Linked DNA regions of Homo sapiens: region 2 is linked to region 1. Evidence: fine-mapped expression QTL. A gene starts in region 1. The other region holds a variant in brackets. All regions are shown on one strand. Distances are between the middles of the regions.

The links. PIP is the estimated chance that this variant, and not a neighbour inherited with it, causes the effect.
Region 2: its variant is fine-mapped to the expression of ANGPT1 in whole blood (TOPMed, PIP 0.99).

The regions. Positions count from the first base shown.
Region 1 is chr8:107,494,695-107,503,040 of GRCh38, reverse strand. It overlaps ANGPT1 (angiopoietin 1), which reads left to right and starts at 5,123. Exons shown (of 9, transcript NM_001146.5): 1 at 5,123-5,779. The coding sequence starts at 5,483. RefSeq lists a silencer at 1,424-1,624.
Region 2 is chr8:107,628,116-107,636,461 of GRCh38, reverse strand. No RefSeq gene overlaps it. Among named protein-coding and RNA genes, the nearest start is that of ANGPT1, 130 kb to the right of the region's middle. The variant A/G (reference allele first, on the strand shown) is at 4,202.

The sequences.
Region 1 (8,346 bases):
ATTCGAGACCAGCCTGGGGAACATGGTGAAACTCCATCTCTACAAAATAATACAAAAATTAGCCGGGTACGATGGTGCATGCCTGTAGTCCCAGCTACTAGGGAGGCTGAGGTGGAAGGATCACTTGAGCCTCAGAGGCAGAGGCTACAGTGAGCTGAGATCATGCCACCGCACTCCAGCCTGGGTGACAAAGCGAGACCCTGTCTCAAAAATAAAATTAAATTAAACCTACTTAACAAACAAGATACCTAACAATTACCAGAAATTTCTGTCATCAAAAGACAGAGGAATATTTATATGATAATTTTTATTTTCCTCACTTATCTATATGCCTCCAGTCCTCATCCCACTTGCTGCAGTGTTTCCAGCTTTTTGTAGCATCCTCCCAGTTATTCTGGGAGTTCTAAATGGATATTTTGCATGTACTCATGAAGTGCCTTCAGTTACCAGATGATATCCTCCATCTTCTTCTGTTTTTGGTTTTGTCCCCTGTGATATTTCCAACTGTTGTGGATACCTTTGCTGCCTACATAGTTGAGTGAAGGTGTCTTGGCTCTGCTTCCAGGAGCTACAGCCAAGTGCCCTCCCTCCTTTTAGATAGAGCTGCCACTTCTATAGGCCTGATGATAGTCTTGATCCCTAAAAGTGCCTGAGCAGAGTCACAGAATATGGCACCCTTGGTGTGGTGAATCACATTGTGTTCAGAACACAAAGTAGGAGAATACTTTCCCACCCCTTTTTCCCCTATAAGTGGTTGTATAAATACCAGAGGACTATTTCCTTGAATCTCATTGCCTGGTGGTATTTTTGAGAAATAAATACTATTTTTTTTCATATATTTTGATTTTATTGTAGAGCAGGAGTGATGATCAAGATATCTAACAGATGACATGGCATAGGACCAACCATTTAGAATATTTCTAAAGTATAATCCGATTAATCAGATTGGCTGTTGGTAAGCATATCTTACCATACTGGTGCATCCTGATTTAATATTATCCCTGTTTTGGAAGATCATAACATGAATCTGTGAAAGCCCTGGGTTTCAGAGGAAAGGGACCTCTGAAGGGGGAAGTCACCATGTTGTTCTTGTTCCCTAAATTATAAGAAATATTTTCTCAATACTGAAGTATTGTCATAAACAATATAGCTCAGTGGGAAATGAATGTGAGCCTCACAGTTAGATGGATTGAGGATCAAATTCCTGTTCTGCCTCCTAAGAGATCATAGATCCTGGGCGATTAATCTCTATGGCTCCACATTTCTCATCAGCAAAATGGGAATAATAATATATAATATTACATAATTATGGGGGTTCTGTAAACATTAGATGAGAAAATTATTTGTTAAGTGTTAAAAAATACTATGAATTATTATTGTACTTTGCTCTTGCGTCTAACTCATTCTTTAGAATAAGTTTGGCTTTATCCTCAGTTCTTCATGCCTAGGGATTCTAGGCAAACTCACCCAACAAATGCAATGAATGTGGCCAGTCATGTAGTAACCAGATAGAGAGTCAGGAAGTTGCATCAACTGAGTCATTAATCAGCTCATTCATTTATTTGCTTATTCTTTCATTCCTTCAGACAAAGTGCATAGTGAATGTTGAGGAATCAATGATGACAAAGAGAAGATCACTTTAGCAGCTCACAGCAAAAGCAAGAGACAGATAAAAAAAAAGGCAACAATTAGCAAGCAACGTGAGCAGTGCAGTTTTGGAGACATGAGGAGAAGGTTATTGAAATTTAACACAGAGAGCATTTATTGGACCTGGAGAAATTAAGAAAGCTTTACCAAAGAATTATCAAAGACTGTTTCTTAGGATAGATTTAGGCACATTAAGTTCTGGTATAAATGGCTCTTGGTCCCTTTGGAAATTTCAGACTAAGTGGGACATTTACTAGGACTCTTTGTAAATATGAGATCAAAACCTTAAAGCCTACACTTCCTTATTCCAGATCTCTAATAAAACACAAAGCTTTTGGGTTCAAGCTACCACAGAATTCAATTGAACAGAATTGTTTAGTTCTTTATAAATATTTTATCCTTCATGGAGGTGTGGTAGATGAATTTTAATTGGCTTGTTCTTATTACTCGCTTATTATTATTATTATTATTTAGAAAGGGTCTCACTCTGTCATCCAGGCTGGAGTGCAGTGGCAATCATGGCTCACTGCAGCCTCAACCCCCTGGACTCAAGCGATTCTCTCACCTCAGCTTCCTGAGTAGCTGGGACCACAGGTCCTGGGCGTGCCACCACACCTGGCTAATTTTTATTTTATTTTATCTTGGGTAGAGACAGGGAGGGTCACCCTATGCTGCCCAGGCTGTACTCAAAATCCTAGTCTCCAACGATCCTCCCACTTCGGCCTCCCAAAGTGCTGGGATTACAGGCATGAGCCACTGAACCCAGCCCTACTCCCTAAATTTTAATGCATCCTGAATTCTGCCCCATTTCTGAATAATCAGCAACACACAACAGTGTTGCTGTTGCTTAGATGCATGATCCCAAAGACATATTATCTTTAGTGTGTCAGGATCCTTAAATGTACCTACAGTCTCCTTAACTGGAGTTCCAAAAACACCGGAGTCAATTCTGCACATCCTTGTGTTTTCTAATTACTTAAAATTCATCTTCAGACATTTTTTTTCAGAATGACACTAGTACTTCCAGTGTTATGGTTTAAGGTTGATTTTGTTTTTCTGCAAAAGAAATAAATCAGTCTCTACATTTTTCTCTGTCTCTTTGTCCCTCGACCCCTCCTTTTTTATTTGCATTTCAGGCTTCTCTTTCTTAGTGTCTACTTTTCCCTCAGGAAATTGTGCATTCCTGCTTTTCATTTATTCTAATTGCGAAAATTCACATGGATAAGGACACAGAGACGTACACAGACACACACGTGGAGGAACAGATTTTTAACAGTCTCGGCTATTTAAAAACACAGGAGCACTTTAATAGAAACCTCACCACTCATCCATTAGTCTTCTGCCAATTTTCTGCTGTATTTAGTTCTTCGCAAAACACTTCTAGGTGTCGGGTTTGGACTCTCTTCTTTCCATGGATAATTTTCAAATCAAGCATTATTGGAAAGTGTTCTTAGACAACCTGCATTTTGCCAGTGCACTTCATCTTTGTGGCTGTGCATAGGTTACCTGTCACTGTGTGTGTGCGTGTGTGCGTGTGTGCGTGTGCGCGCGCACGCGTGTGCTGGAAAAGGCCTGAATCACTTTGGAGAGATACTCTGGTTTTAACAGTGCTTTTTCTTCTAGGTACGTCACTTCTCCTGGTTTAGGACTGTAAATCAATGCAGCTGGAGCGCTTTTGAAATTGCTTTCATTCCTTGCAGAGATTTCCAAAAGCAGGCTGGCCTGGTGGTTTGAAACAGGCTCTGAGTCAGTTTGCCTGAGTTCACATACTGGCGCCATCACTTGCCAGCTCTGTGAATTACATCCTGTTAGCCTTTCTGTGACTCAGTCTTCCCATTGATAAAATGGGGTTAAACGGATGATATCCGTGATCTTAGGTTTGTTGGAATGATTAAGTGAGATAGTGTGTAAGGAGTGCTTCGCCTGGAAAACAGTAAGGTCTTAATGCATGCCATTATTATTGTTGCACAGGAGTGATACATGACTCAATGAGGAGACACGCAAAAGTTCAAGAGGCTGCAAAAGTGGTTCAAATATTTTATTGCTGTGTTTGGCATAACTTGCTTCCATATCTGTCCAATCAGAAATTTGTTATTTGGTGTGGAAAGGACTGATGAATCTCGGCAAGGTTTCTTTCCCCAAGTAAATCGCATTTGTTCTGGAATTTGTTTTGACCTCTCCTCTAACTTCTCCCTAAATGCCCATCTCTAACCACTACGGACCTTCACCCACTGCCCTGTTCTCCTTCCAAGACATGGGAGATGACAGCTGTGGCTTCTGTTTTCACACCATGACTGCAGTTGTCTAAAAGCCCTCCCAGTTCCTAATGAAAATCCCAACTCATAATTCAGGTTTTCTGCATCTAGTAAAGATCTCAAAGCCGTTCCCTAAATTCTACAATTATTGCCTGTTTATGTTTATGGGTCCCTTTGTTCAAATGTTTATACGCTGCCTGTGGGAAATCATCTTCTGATAATTTTTCTTTCTTCCTTCACAGAAGCACAGAGATGTCTCCTGTACAGCCCATTGCTGGCTGTTAGCACACCTGATATATGCTTGTTCTCACATAGTATGTCTGTGCAGCCACAGGAGGTTTTTATGTGGAACTTCCACACCAGTGTTAAAGACAGCCATAGCCACCAAAGAGATCCTTGTAAAATACAGGATTAGGATATACCACAGGAATTAATAATTCTCAAGCCACTGCTTTAAATTGTAGCCACATTGTTTTTGTAGGGAAGTTGCTCAATTTATATACACAGAACATGAAGGGTTGCATTCTGATCAGGACACCAGTTTCATTTAAGAACCCTATACCAAAAGGTACTTAGATAACCCTCTTTAATATGCACATACTATATTGCTTTGTGCAACATATTGCTTTGAGCAACAAATGATGCTAATTTTCTTGCTAATTTGATCCTCTCTGATTATTTTCTTCAACTCCTAAAAGTCTAAGTGAATACAATGAAAGAATACCATCTGTAAAAACTGTTTTTTAACATATTTTTCCTCAGAGTCAAGAATACATGTTTTTTAAAGACATTTAATAATGATATGGGTTTATCATTCTCTATCAAAAATAATTCCATTGGACATTATGCCAATTTTCTTCTTAGGGTCCCTCGACTAAATAGTAACTTTAAAAACATACTGCTAGTTTGCTATATTTTAGTAGGTCAGCATGCACACCAAAAGTGTATTAAGGTGGACTGCTCTATTTATTGATTTGCCATGAATCTGCTAAAGGCTCAAGGCAATTGTCTGTGGAAAGGGGCGGGAGGGCCATACATGATCGAGGTCATGCGCATCTAGCCAATTTGTAAGACGATCCCGCCGCCCTAAGCCATCAGCAATCCTTAGTATAGGGGCACACTCATGCATTCCTGTCAAGTCATCTTGTGAAAGGCTGCCTGCTTCCAGCTTGGCTTGGATGTGCAACCTTAATAAAACTCACTGAGGTCTGGGAGAAAATAGCAGATCTGCAGCAGATAGGGTAGAGGAAAGGGTCTAGAATATGTACACGCAGCTGACTCAGGCAGGCTCCATGCTGAACGGTCACACAGAGAGGAAACAATAAATCTCAGCTACTATGCAATAAATATCTCAAGTTTTAACGAAGAAAAACATCATTGCAGTGAAATAAAAAATTTTAAAATTTTAGAACAAAGCTAACAAATGGCTAGTTTTCTATGATTCTTCTTCAAACGCTTTCTTTGAGGGGGAAAGAGTCAAACAAACAAGCAGTTTTACCTGAAATAAAGAACTAGTTTTAGAGGTCAGAAGAAAGGAGCAAGTTTTGCGAGAGGCACGGAAGGAGTGTGCTGGCAGTACAATGACAGTTTTCCTTTCCTTTGCTTTCCTCGCTGCCATTCTGACTCACATAGGGTGCAGCAATCAGCGCCGAAGTCCAGAAAACAGTGGGAGAAGATATAACCGGATTCAACATGGGCAATGTGCCTACACTTTCATTCTTCCAGAACACGATGGCAACTGTCGTGAGAGTACGACAGACCAGTACAACACAAACGCTCTGCAGAGAGATGCTCCACACGTGGAACCGGATTTCTCTTCCCAGAAACTTCAACATCTGGAACATGTGATGGAAAATTATACTCAGTGGCTGCAAAAAGTAAGTGATTGCTTTCAGTTTCTAATAGCACGGACCTTTTTCCTTTCTTGCACTGCAGCTAACTTAAAGTTCCTTAGGGGAGCATTTGTGTATTTACCTTTTGCTCCAGGGGGGCAGTGTTTGCAATTGCAAGACGGCTGTCTGGGTTTGGCTTCCTGGGTAAGCCAAGGTTTGGGGGCTTGCCCAAACCTATGAATGTGTGGGGGCACCCCGTTTGTGTGTCTAGCCCTGGCAAATTTTATGACATTTTTGGTTTCTCTTTTCTAAAGTTCAGCATTAAGGTTCTCTCTGTCAAAACACTACCTTAAGAAAGAAAGTATGTACCTCTTAAGCAAGTTGGTGAAAAATAAATAATAATGACAATATTAATTAATAAGATCAAATCGATTTTGCACCAGAAAATTTTGTGCCGCTGGGGTGGCAAATCATCACAAAGTATTTGTTTTTTTAACCTTTATAAAAATTAACATGAAGTGAGAGTAAATATAAAATATGATATTTGGTTGGAGAAATTGTATATTTATGTAAAGGGAACTGTTAGTTTCAGCAAGTGGTAGAATAGTAGACTGATTTCTGTTAAATATTTTTTTCTTCTGTCCTTGAGAAAAAAAATTAAAAAGATACATTGTAATGTTAACTGTCGGAAAGGGGTTGCTCGCTCACGATGAGGGCATGCTGGCTGTTGAGGAAGACATGCACCTGCAGATATGGGCTGAACGCAGCATGTAGTCTACTATATTCCTGAAATACCTCCCTTCTCAGGGCATTGTAGTTAGAGACAGTACCTGGCGAGTTTAAGTATCCATGTTATTTGATGAATGTTAATGTTGAGTATGAATGTAATCTCAATTTATAGAAATCAAATCGAATAGTTTATCCAGTTATTTATCTACAAACCATTTAAGTTTTTGTTGAAGATAAGCCTATTAAATTATGAACACACTTCTGCAATTCATTCTGTCTTTGCACTCTGTTTAATAATAGGCAGCCGAGAATAAGTATATTCAACTGACTATGCTACTAGAAGGGAGGCAATGTCTCAATTTGTGAAAAGCTTCTCTCCCTTGTTAATGGATTCACTTGGTACATGTAGATAGGTATGCAATCAGGCTTCTTTAAGTTAGTCTGTTAACCGGGCAATCCCTTTAAAAAGATAAAAGATAGGGAAAGGACAAATGCTCTATTTTGTTCCTGTGTGGTCACACTCACTTAGGTCATTGCCTGCTGAATCATGCCAAGTAATAGTTATTCTACTTTTGTCCACTAGGGACTGAACTAAGATCACTGTTATTTTATTTGACACATTAACTGGAACTTAGTAGTTCTACAGTTTCCAAAGCTGATATTGTAATCTTTCTATTACAGACTATAGGACTGTAATAGGCAATCAGTAGGTAGGCAGAAGAATAAAAAGCAAACAGAACTCTCAGGTTTTTTACAATTGTAGCTGAAATTTTATGCATTACTTTCAGTAGTAGTTTATAATAGGATGTTTGTATTTTTCTTTGGTAAAATTTATTTCCATTGTAAACAAATGATTTTGGTTGAACAGCTTGTTATTATTCTTCAGTACACCATCCGTATAGTTTTTAGTGAGAATTCAATCATTACATATTAGTCTGGATTCTTTGAGGGAACGGGAAGGAAAATTTAGTCCCAAGTTATCCTGAATGATCTATTCTACCAAAAACGTAATGTTTTGTTTGCTTAAAGCGTATAATCACAATAGTGATTCAAACATAGTAATGCATATTTCTTGTTGCTATGCAATTATTCAGCAGTGACAGGGTAAACACATAATTCTGCTGGGCTTAAATCATGCACGTGTTTCATATGTTAATTTATTTTGCAAAATAAATTTGATTCTTGTTTGCATTGTTCTTGGTCAATGATTATGGGATAGCTTTCAGATTATAGCCAAGAATAACTATTAAAATGTTCTTTGGTTACATTCACCCTTTCAAGTGTAAAAATCAAGCTGAATATATGCTGAAAACGTCCCTATTGGTATGAGTCAGAGCAATGTGGCTTGACTATTGTCAGTTTAAATTTGCATATCTTTTGTCATTGTCAATGTGATTGGTTGGAGGATCAAGAAACCAAAAAATGCATTCAGCAAAGAACTTGCTAAAGGCTTTCATAAGTTTCCCTTAATTAGGAGTTTTCTTCACTCCAAGTTCTAAACTTCATGTGATATTTTTATTCTGATAATTGAAATGGAAATCTTTTTACTGTAACCATTTGGTATGCTCAGTACTGCAATTTGTATTACTTCTATTTTGATTCCAAGTAGTTGCCATAGGAAGAAGCAACACCCTGCAGAAACTGAGGCTATCAGTGTATGTAGGTGAAATTAATTTATCCATTTATTTGGCAAAATAATTAATCAAAGCATAGTGATTATTATGCAGCTCATGGCATCGCTATCAGGAAAGGTTTTGAGGCAGAATAGATGTGTTATCAACTCTAAATGAAGCTATATGATAATTATGTTAATCCATCACCTTCCATGAAGGGAAACCTCCTTCCTCAACTTTTCTGGTCTTGCAACTGAACAGGATGAGAAG
Region 2 (8,346 bases), 130 kb before region 1:
GGTGTGTTTTCCATTTTCCAACTTTTTTGTGTGCTCAAAATTTTGTTGTGAGTACTGTTAATCTGTGTTTTATCCTGGGATTTTGAGATGCTTATATTTATCTGTCACTTTTGTCATCTATCTTGTGGGTAATATTTGAAAGTCTCAGTTTCTGCAGATCACAGCTGGGAATTTAATAGACAGCTCTTTACTCCTTTCATTGTGAGCTGGCCGCAGACTCACTTTGTACATTGGTGTGTTTGGGAATAACAGAAAAATAAAGAAAAACCAAGGATAAAGGCAGAGGTCTAAAGACTAGGAAAATAAGCATCAAGCTCATTTTGGTGACGATTGTGAATTGGCCTAACTTTACAATGCCTACCCATTTCCCTCCGCTATTCATTCATCATCATCATTAATTTCTCTCTTCATTTGCTAAACAGATGAGTAGCAAGGGAGGCAATAGAATTAAACCCGAACAAAAAGGCCCCTTTCTCCTCAATCCTCAGTGTTCCTTCGAGAATAAAGACTTTAATGATGGGAGGTCCATTTCAATTCTCTGGAGCCAATGCATTTCTACCTCAGTAGTCACTGCTTTCGGCAAAAGGAAATGCCTGTAAAGGGGTAAAGATCCGTTAACTGACCACTTCAAAGAGAATTAACCTGCCAGAGGAAAGGGTGAATGTTTTGCAAACTTAATCTTTCCTGGGCAAAACCGCATTATGAAGTGCTGGCCAGGCACTTTCTTGCCTTCTTTGGAAAACAGGCTTTTTGTGTCCTTAACTTCACAGCTAGAGACACATATATCCTCTCCAGCACCTGATCTCTCTCCCCTGACTTGCTTGTCTGTGTTATTTCTTTGCAGAGCTGCTGCACTGTCTATCTACCTGAATCATCTTGGCTTCATCTTACAAATTAGCTGCCTAATTAGTCTTCCAGAAGTACAGATTTGATGACGATATTTTGCTACTCAAAAAGCTTTAGTGGCTTAGCTTTATGTAAACAACAAAACTTGGACTTTCTGGCTTAACCTTCAAGACTTTCTATGACTTAGCCTTATTCTACCCACCCGAACATTTTCTGCCTCCCCTCCCTGCCCCTGCATTTTTAAAAAGTCCACTTCACTTAGACCAAACTTAAACTTTGCTTCCACACAATAGTAAGTTCCTCAAGGACAGGATTTTTGTCTGTTATATTTACTGTTGTGTCTCCGACACCAACAACAGTGGCTGGCTTCTTGTAGGTGCTGGATAGACACATAAATAGAGGCTGAATTGATGGAATGAATAAACGGCCATTTTCCACATTTCCCAGACTCTGTGACTTTGCTTACTTCTTCTCTTCATGAATAAATATTCAGCCTTTGTTCAGAACCTGTTAATAAACCACCTCTCCCATTTAGGCAATATCAGATTAGCTGAAGTAAATCTCTCCCTTCTGTTAGTTCCAATAATTCTTTATATTCTCACAATTCTCAGTCACATATTTTTGTCACTTTTATCTTTCAATTATAACTGTTTAGATGCATGTCATATTTTTTTGACTAAACTTTAAGCTCTTTGGGCAGAATGCACATCTGAATTATATTTATCCCTCCCGCTATTCCCAACCACTAGTTTATAGTAATGATTCTAAGATATCATCTTGCAGGTAAAAGTCACTCAAAAAAGCACTTGGTTAAGAATTTTTTATTTTATATTGTCACTTCCTGTTTTATTAAAATATGTTGTAAAATCTTTGCGGTCAAAGATATATCATTCAGTACTCTTTTCTTGCATCACAGTCAACTTCATTTTAATGAAATAATGATGGTTTCATTAATAGTTACTGAATTATTAAATATATTGGTAATGGATTATTCTTCAGCATTTTAGGAAATAAGAAACCATTTACATCCAAACCCATAGAATCCACAACAACAAGAGAACCTTACTGTAATGGACTTTGGGGGATAATGATGTGTCAATGTAGGTTTATTGGTTGTAAGAAATGAACAATTCTGGTGTGGAATTTTGGTAGTTGGGGAGGCTATGCATGTGTGGAGCCAGGGAGTATATGCGAAATTTCTGTAACATTGTGCTCAATTTTGCTGTGAAACTAAACCTGCTCTAAAAAATAAAGCATATTTTAAAAACAAAACAAACAAACAAAAAATGCATTTACATACATACCTCTTCCTTTATACCCTGCTGCTAAGTAGTTTTAAGACATTTTTCTTCCAAACTGAAGCTAACGGGAGTTGAAGATGAGAAGGTAGGAAAATATATCTTTGCCTTTGGTTTAAAGTTCCTGTGTATCCCAGGCAATAGAACAAAATAATATTAACACTTATTTCGCTGAGGGTAATCTCATATTTATGTATTTCCAGAGTATTTACAAATAGATGTGACAGCACTATACCAATTTTTGGCACTTTTTTTTTCCACATTGCTGCTGCTTCATTTATATATTTAATTTTTTGACTATTTATACATATGAGTTCTGTATTAGTCTGTTCTCACATTGCTTTGAAGAGATACTCAAGACTGGGTAATTTATAACCAGTTCTGACTCACAGTTCTGCATGGCTGGGGAGGCCTCAGGAAACTTACAATCGTGGCAAAAGGGGAAGTAAACATGTCTTTCTTCACATGGCAGCAGGAGAGAGGAGTGAAGGGGGTAAAAGCCCCTAATAAAACCATTAGATCTCGTGAAAACTCACTCACCATCATGAGAACAGCATGGGGGAACTGCCCCCATGATCTAATCACTTCCCATGAGGTCCCTCCCCCAACATGTGGGGATTACATTTCAGATTACAAATCAAGATGAGATTAGGGTGGGGACACAGAGTATATTATTCAACCCTGACCCCTCCCAAATTTTGTCTTTCTCACATTATGCCTTCCCAACAGTTCCTCAAAGTCTTAACTCATTTCAGCATTAACCCAGAAGTCCAAGTTCATAGTCTCATCTGAGACAAGGCAAGTTCCTTCCATGTATGAGCCTATAAAATCAAAAGCAAGTTAGTTACTTCCTAGATACAATTGAGGTACAGGAATAGGGTAAATACACCCATTCCAAATGGGAGAAATTGGCCAAAACAAAGGGGCTGCAGGCCCCATGCAAGTCCAAAATCCAACAAGGCAATAATTAAATCTTAAAGCTCTGACATAATCTCCTTTGGCTCCATGTTTCACATCCAGGTCATGCTGATACAGGAGGGGGGCACTCATGCCCTTGGGCAAGTTCTTAGGGGAGAAAGGAAAAACCAAGAATAAATGAAGTGGAGAACAGTTTCCAGAATTCACAAAAAGCAGGCACATTTATCTAATAAGACATGTGCCTGCAAAATTACAGCCTTGATTCCTGACTTGGTTATTGCCCTCCAGGGCCTGCTTCTCCAGGGAAGACACATTTTTCTGCAGGCTTCTTTCCCTTTGTTCCCATCACTGAAGGCAATAATCTATGCAGAGGAATCTTGGATTTGGCCAAAGGCTCTTTTCAAGATGTATTGATTGTAATCAATTGAAGATTTCTGAAAAGAAGATATGCATGCAGCATTTAATGAGTTGACGTTTAGCTTCATGGTCTTGAAAATAAATGATAGTGAGAATTATCGGCATTAGATTGCCAAAAAAAAAAAAAAAAAAACAAAACAATAAGAAAAAAAACTGTAGAGTGTTCCATGGTTACAGGATTCTTCCTTTTTCCCTATTTTCCTTAACTTCTCTTCATGGGGGTATAATTATGTTTATTCATGCCACTGATATTTGATTACTCCTGGGTTTCAAAATGGCTATTCTTTCACAAAACTTTCCTTCTGAAAGAGGAACTATATGTATTGTTATTTTCCTTCTGAAAGAGGAACTATATGTATTGTTATTTTCCTTCTGAAAGAGGAAATATATGTATTGTTATTTTCCTTCTGAAAGAGGAACTATATGTATTGTTATTTTCCTTCTGAAAGAGGAATTATATGTATTCAGCAGGACTTTGGGAGCTCGGAGACCCTTATACGTAGGCACCTGTTTTTCCTGAGATGTTAGCAAGTATCCTTGGTGAACGAGGAACGTGCTGCTTTCTAATATACCATAAAAGAGGGTTTGTTTAGATTCTCTTTCAGGAAAAGAAGTTAGAGATTAGACATACTGAGGTTGTCCTAGCTTCGTGGAGAAAAAAAAAGTTTCTTAAAACTGCTTCCTTAAAATATGGCACTGTCCAAATTGAATCATTGTATTAC[A/G]CAAGTGCTATCTAGTTTTCAAATCTAAATGTAAACAGATGGGGGTGACAAATAGATTCAAACATCCTCAAAGTATGAGTACGGAGACTTAACAACCAAATAGAGGAAAGACTGAACCTATTAGTTAACCCTAAAATTAATCCACATTCTTAATTTTTTAAATATTTAGTATTTTTACTGTTTCCATGCATTCTAGGAATTATAAAACAAAAGCCCCAACGTGAAAACAGGGCTCTAGTTCTATTTATGGTTTTTCTCACTCAAAGACAGAAAAGACTGAAAGCATCTATAAGTCCTATTTCTCTAATTCCTGGAGAGTGATAAATATTTAGCCAAACACATGATTACTCATTTGAATGTTTCAAATAGACTGATGTTTTGCCAACATAGAAACCAAATCTAGTTTTGGGTGGTCATAGTTTTACAAGTTAGTCACTCACCAATAAGCATCCATGAAAATTGAGTTTATCATTCATGTACTAATTTATTTATTCATCAACTTATTTAATAAGTATATATTTAACGCCTATTATGTGACAGGCATTGTCCTTGCTGCCTGGATACTGAATAGTCAACAGAATAAATCTGATTCCTGCCCCCCAGGGCAAGAAAACAGCCTGTTGAGGAAAACAGATATGAAACAAAACGAAAGAAATAAAATATTGTCACAGAGGGCTGAGAAATAAAAGAGCAATATATTGATGAATAAAAACATATGCCATCATACGTAGATAAATTTGGAAGCATAAACATCTGTCATCATACACACGTAGATTTAGAAGCATTACCCTCTATTCCTTCTATAAGAAAACACAGATATTTGTTACCTAGAGCAAACATTTTGTAATCTGGCCCTGCAGTGTTATAATTTACTGTTTTGCTGGCCCCCTCATTCTCTCTATAAGGTTCCATGAGTGACTTGGGCACTGGTCTTCCCTACTTTCCCACATGATCAAGGGAATTCTCATTCTACAACAAGTCCTAAAAAGTCAAATCAAACTCCACTTCGACCAGTCAAGGCTATTGTCTCCTTGACCGACTACTAAGTTTTCATGCTGAATGGTGCATGCATCTCTGCAAATTGTTCTTCTTTATTCACCACTTTATGGCCCACTTTGTCACCTGCTATTATCTGCTCACTTCCCAGATTTTGCTCCTACCAGCTTTCTTGCTAATCAGGTTTTTTTTTTTTTCCCTGTTTCTAAACATACATCTCAATGTCTGGTGTGATCTTCACACATTTCCCAGTCACCTTCCTCAGCTAAACCTGTCTACTTGGCAGACAAGCACTTTGGAACTTCATATCTACTCTTTCTCATGACACTGACATATTCTTTTTTTGGCATACAAATGTCAACAGGTAGGATCAAATGGAAAAGAGGTGTGAAAGGTTAATTCCCCAATATCAGCATCAACTATAGGAAATGTATTTGCAGAGTAACAGCTAAGCGGAACTCCTTGAATGAACAGTGCTCTGTGACAACTATTGAATGAGAACATTTCTGTCACAATGAAGACAAAGGTTGTTTCAATGTCATGGGTCACTGGGTGAAGAGCAGAGAAAGCCAGTTCTTCATGCTTATACAAGAGCCCTTCAAACATGGGAAGCCAATGTTACAGACGAGGGTTTAGCCAAAGAATGAACAGTTGTTGCCAAAAATCAAAGGATTTTTTTTGAAACCCAATTTTTGATCTTAGTTAAATCCCTGTTTGGGATACAGGACCAATATCAGTCTGTCATCATCATGCACAAAGGAAACTATAAATTATAAACGCATCTACGTAGAAAACAAATAGAATTGTTATGTACATTATTAGGGAAATCATATTATCAGTGAGTTTGCTTCCAGAATGGAGGCTGTGTAAATAAATGGATTTTACAGGATGAATCTTTATTAAAAAAAATATTGTAGATCACCTGAGGTCAGGAGTTTGAGACCAGCCTGGCCAACATGGCAAAAACCCGTTTCTACTAAAAATACAAAAAATTAGCCAGGAGTGGTGGCGTGTGTGCCTGTTGTCCCAGCTACTCGGGAAGCTGAGGCAGCAGAATCACTTGAACCTGGGAGGTGGAGGTCACAGTGAGCTGAGATGGTGCCACTGCACTCCAGCCTGGGTGACAGAGGGAGACTTAGTCTCAAAAAGATAATTGTAAAATTGTAGGGGAGAAGAGATTTTTTTTTTCTCATCCATTCATTGTTCAATTCATGACTGAGACCCTGGTAATAAAAAATTAGATTAACAAGAGAAAAGCACACAAATCTATGTAGTATAAGTTTTACTTGACATAGAAGCCTTCAGAGATGAAGACCCCTGCCAAAAAAAAAAAAAAAAAAAAAAAAAAACAGGGAAAATTGTGCAGTTTTGTGGACAATTGTGCAGAAGTATGATTAGAGGACAAAAAGTTCTGACCCAACGGTAATAAACTGGGTAAAACTTAGCAAGACCTGTTTGTTCAGATTCTTCTCTGTGTCTTCATTCCTTTTTTCTGGGTAGAGGGAGGGCTCCTCTGGAATGAGAATGATGACCTACTTTAGAGGAAGGTCAGATAATTATTTTATGGTCTGCTTCAGGGCACAATGGCAGGAGAAGGCCAAAGAGATGTCCATCCTGCTTCTGCTGTTTTTCAAATGCCAAAGTGCCATATTTTGGGAAAACATATTCTGAACTCCATTAAAATGGAAATGTTATTTGTTAGTCTAAGCTGAAAATAAAGTAAAATAAACCTCTAGACTCTTCTTTTTTTCAAAATGGCATCCTTCCAAATTCCTCCGTTTATCTCTATATTTTCTTTTCATTGATTTTTTAGAGACAGGGTCTCACTCTGACACCAAGGCTGGAGTTCAGTGACACACTCATCGCTCACTGCAGCCTCGAACTCCTAGGCTCAAGTGATTCTCCGGCTCAGCCTCCTGAGCAGCTGAGATTATAGGTGCATTCCACCATAATCATTATTTAAAGTTTTTGTAGAGACAGGGCCTCTCTATGTTGCTCAGGCTTCACTGAGATTAATTTGCAATGGGAAAGACTTCAATTAAGCAGAAAGAAGATCTTTCTTAATAAAAGATTCATAAGAATTTGCTTCATGATTTATTCATTTATACTCATCTTTTAAAAATTATTTGAGATGACTTAAAAGAGCATAAAATAAGAAAGTAAAGATAAATAAATGAAAAAAGGGTAAAGAGCAAACAAAACAGGAAACAAAGTTGAACCAGGGATAAAGGTAGTGTTCCTAAGAATGGATTGGATTCAAGTATACTAGTAGGGAAGACCCCATGTGAGAGAATAATCAGGAATGTAATCCACAGATTCTGGGAGCTCAGGAGACACAGTTGTTTGTGTACTGACATCCAAAGAGGGTTTCTGTTGTGCAAGTCTAAAAAGAAGACATAGTGTGATGGCATAAACAACATACTCAACAATATTAGTTCAATAAGAAAAATAGAAAATGTTATACATTTTATTTTGGCATGCTATATTAGTTTCTTGTTGATAGAACAACATTGCTACTATAACAAATTAATTCAAATGTAGTGGCTTTAAACAACACATATTTATTATCTAACAATTCTAGAGATAGAAAGTCTGAAATGAGTGTTAGGGTGCTAAAATCAAGGTGTTGGCAGAGCTGTGATCCTTTTGGAGGCTTTAGAGGAGAATCCATTTCTTAAATTTCCAGCTTCTAGAGTCTGGTTGCATTTCTTGCTTACTGGCCCATCACCCTGACCTCTGGTTCAGTTATTAGAGAACTCTTTCTCTCTCTGATTCTAACCCTCTGTCTTTGTTTTGCAAAGACCATGGTAGTTACACTGGGCCCGCCAGGATGATCCAGGATATTTCCCCATCTCCGGTTTTGTAAGTCCCTTTTGCTGCATAAAATAGCATATTCCAGGAATGAGGATATGGCCTTCATTGCGGGGTAGTTATTCAGCCTAGCACACATGCCTTAATGTAGGCAGATGATTGGGTGATAAAAATGTCTATGTACGCAGCTCTCTGATACTTTTCAATATACAAGGAAAATTAGGAGAGTTCATAGTATATTCACATTTTACCACCATGAAAGGAAAATCTGTTCTGGCAGTTCTAGTTTTCATTTTGATAATAAGCAGTAGGTAACTATTCTGGGTTCAAAGAGTTTA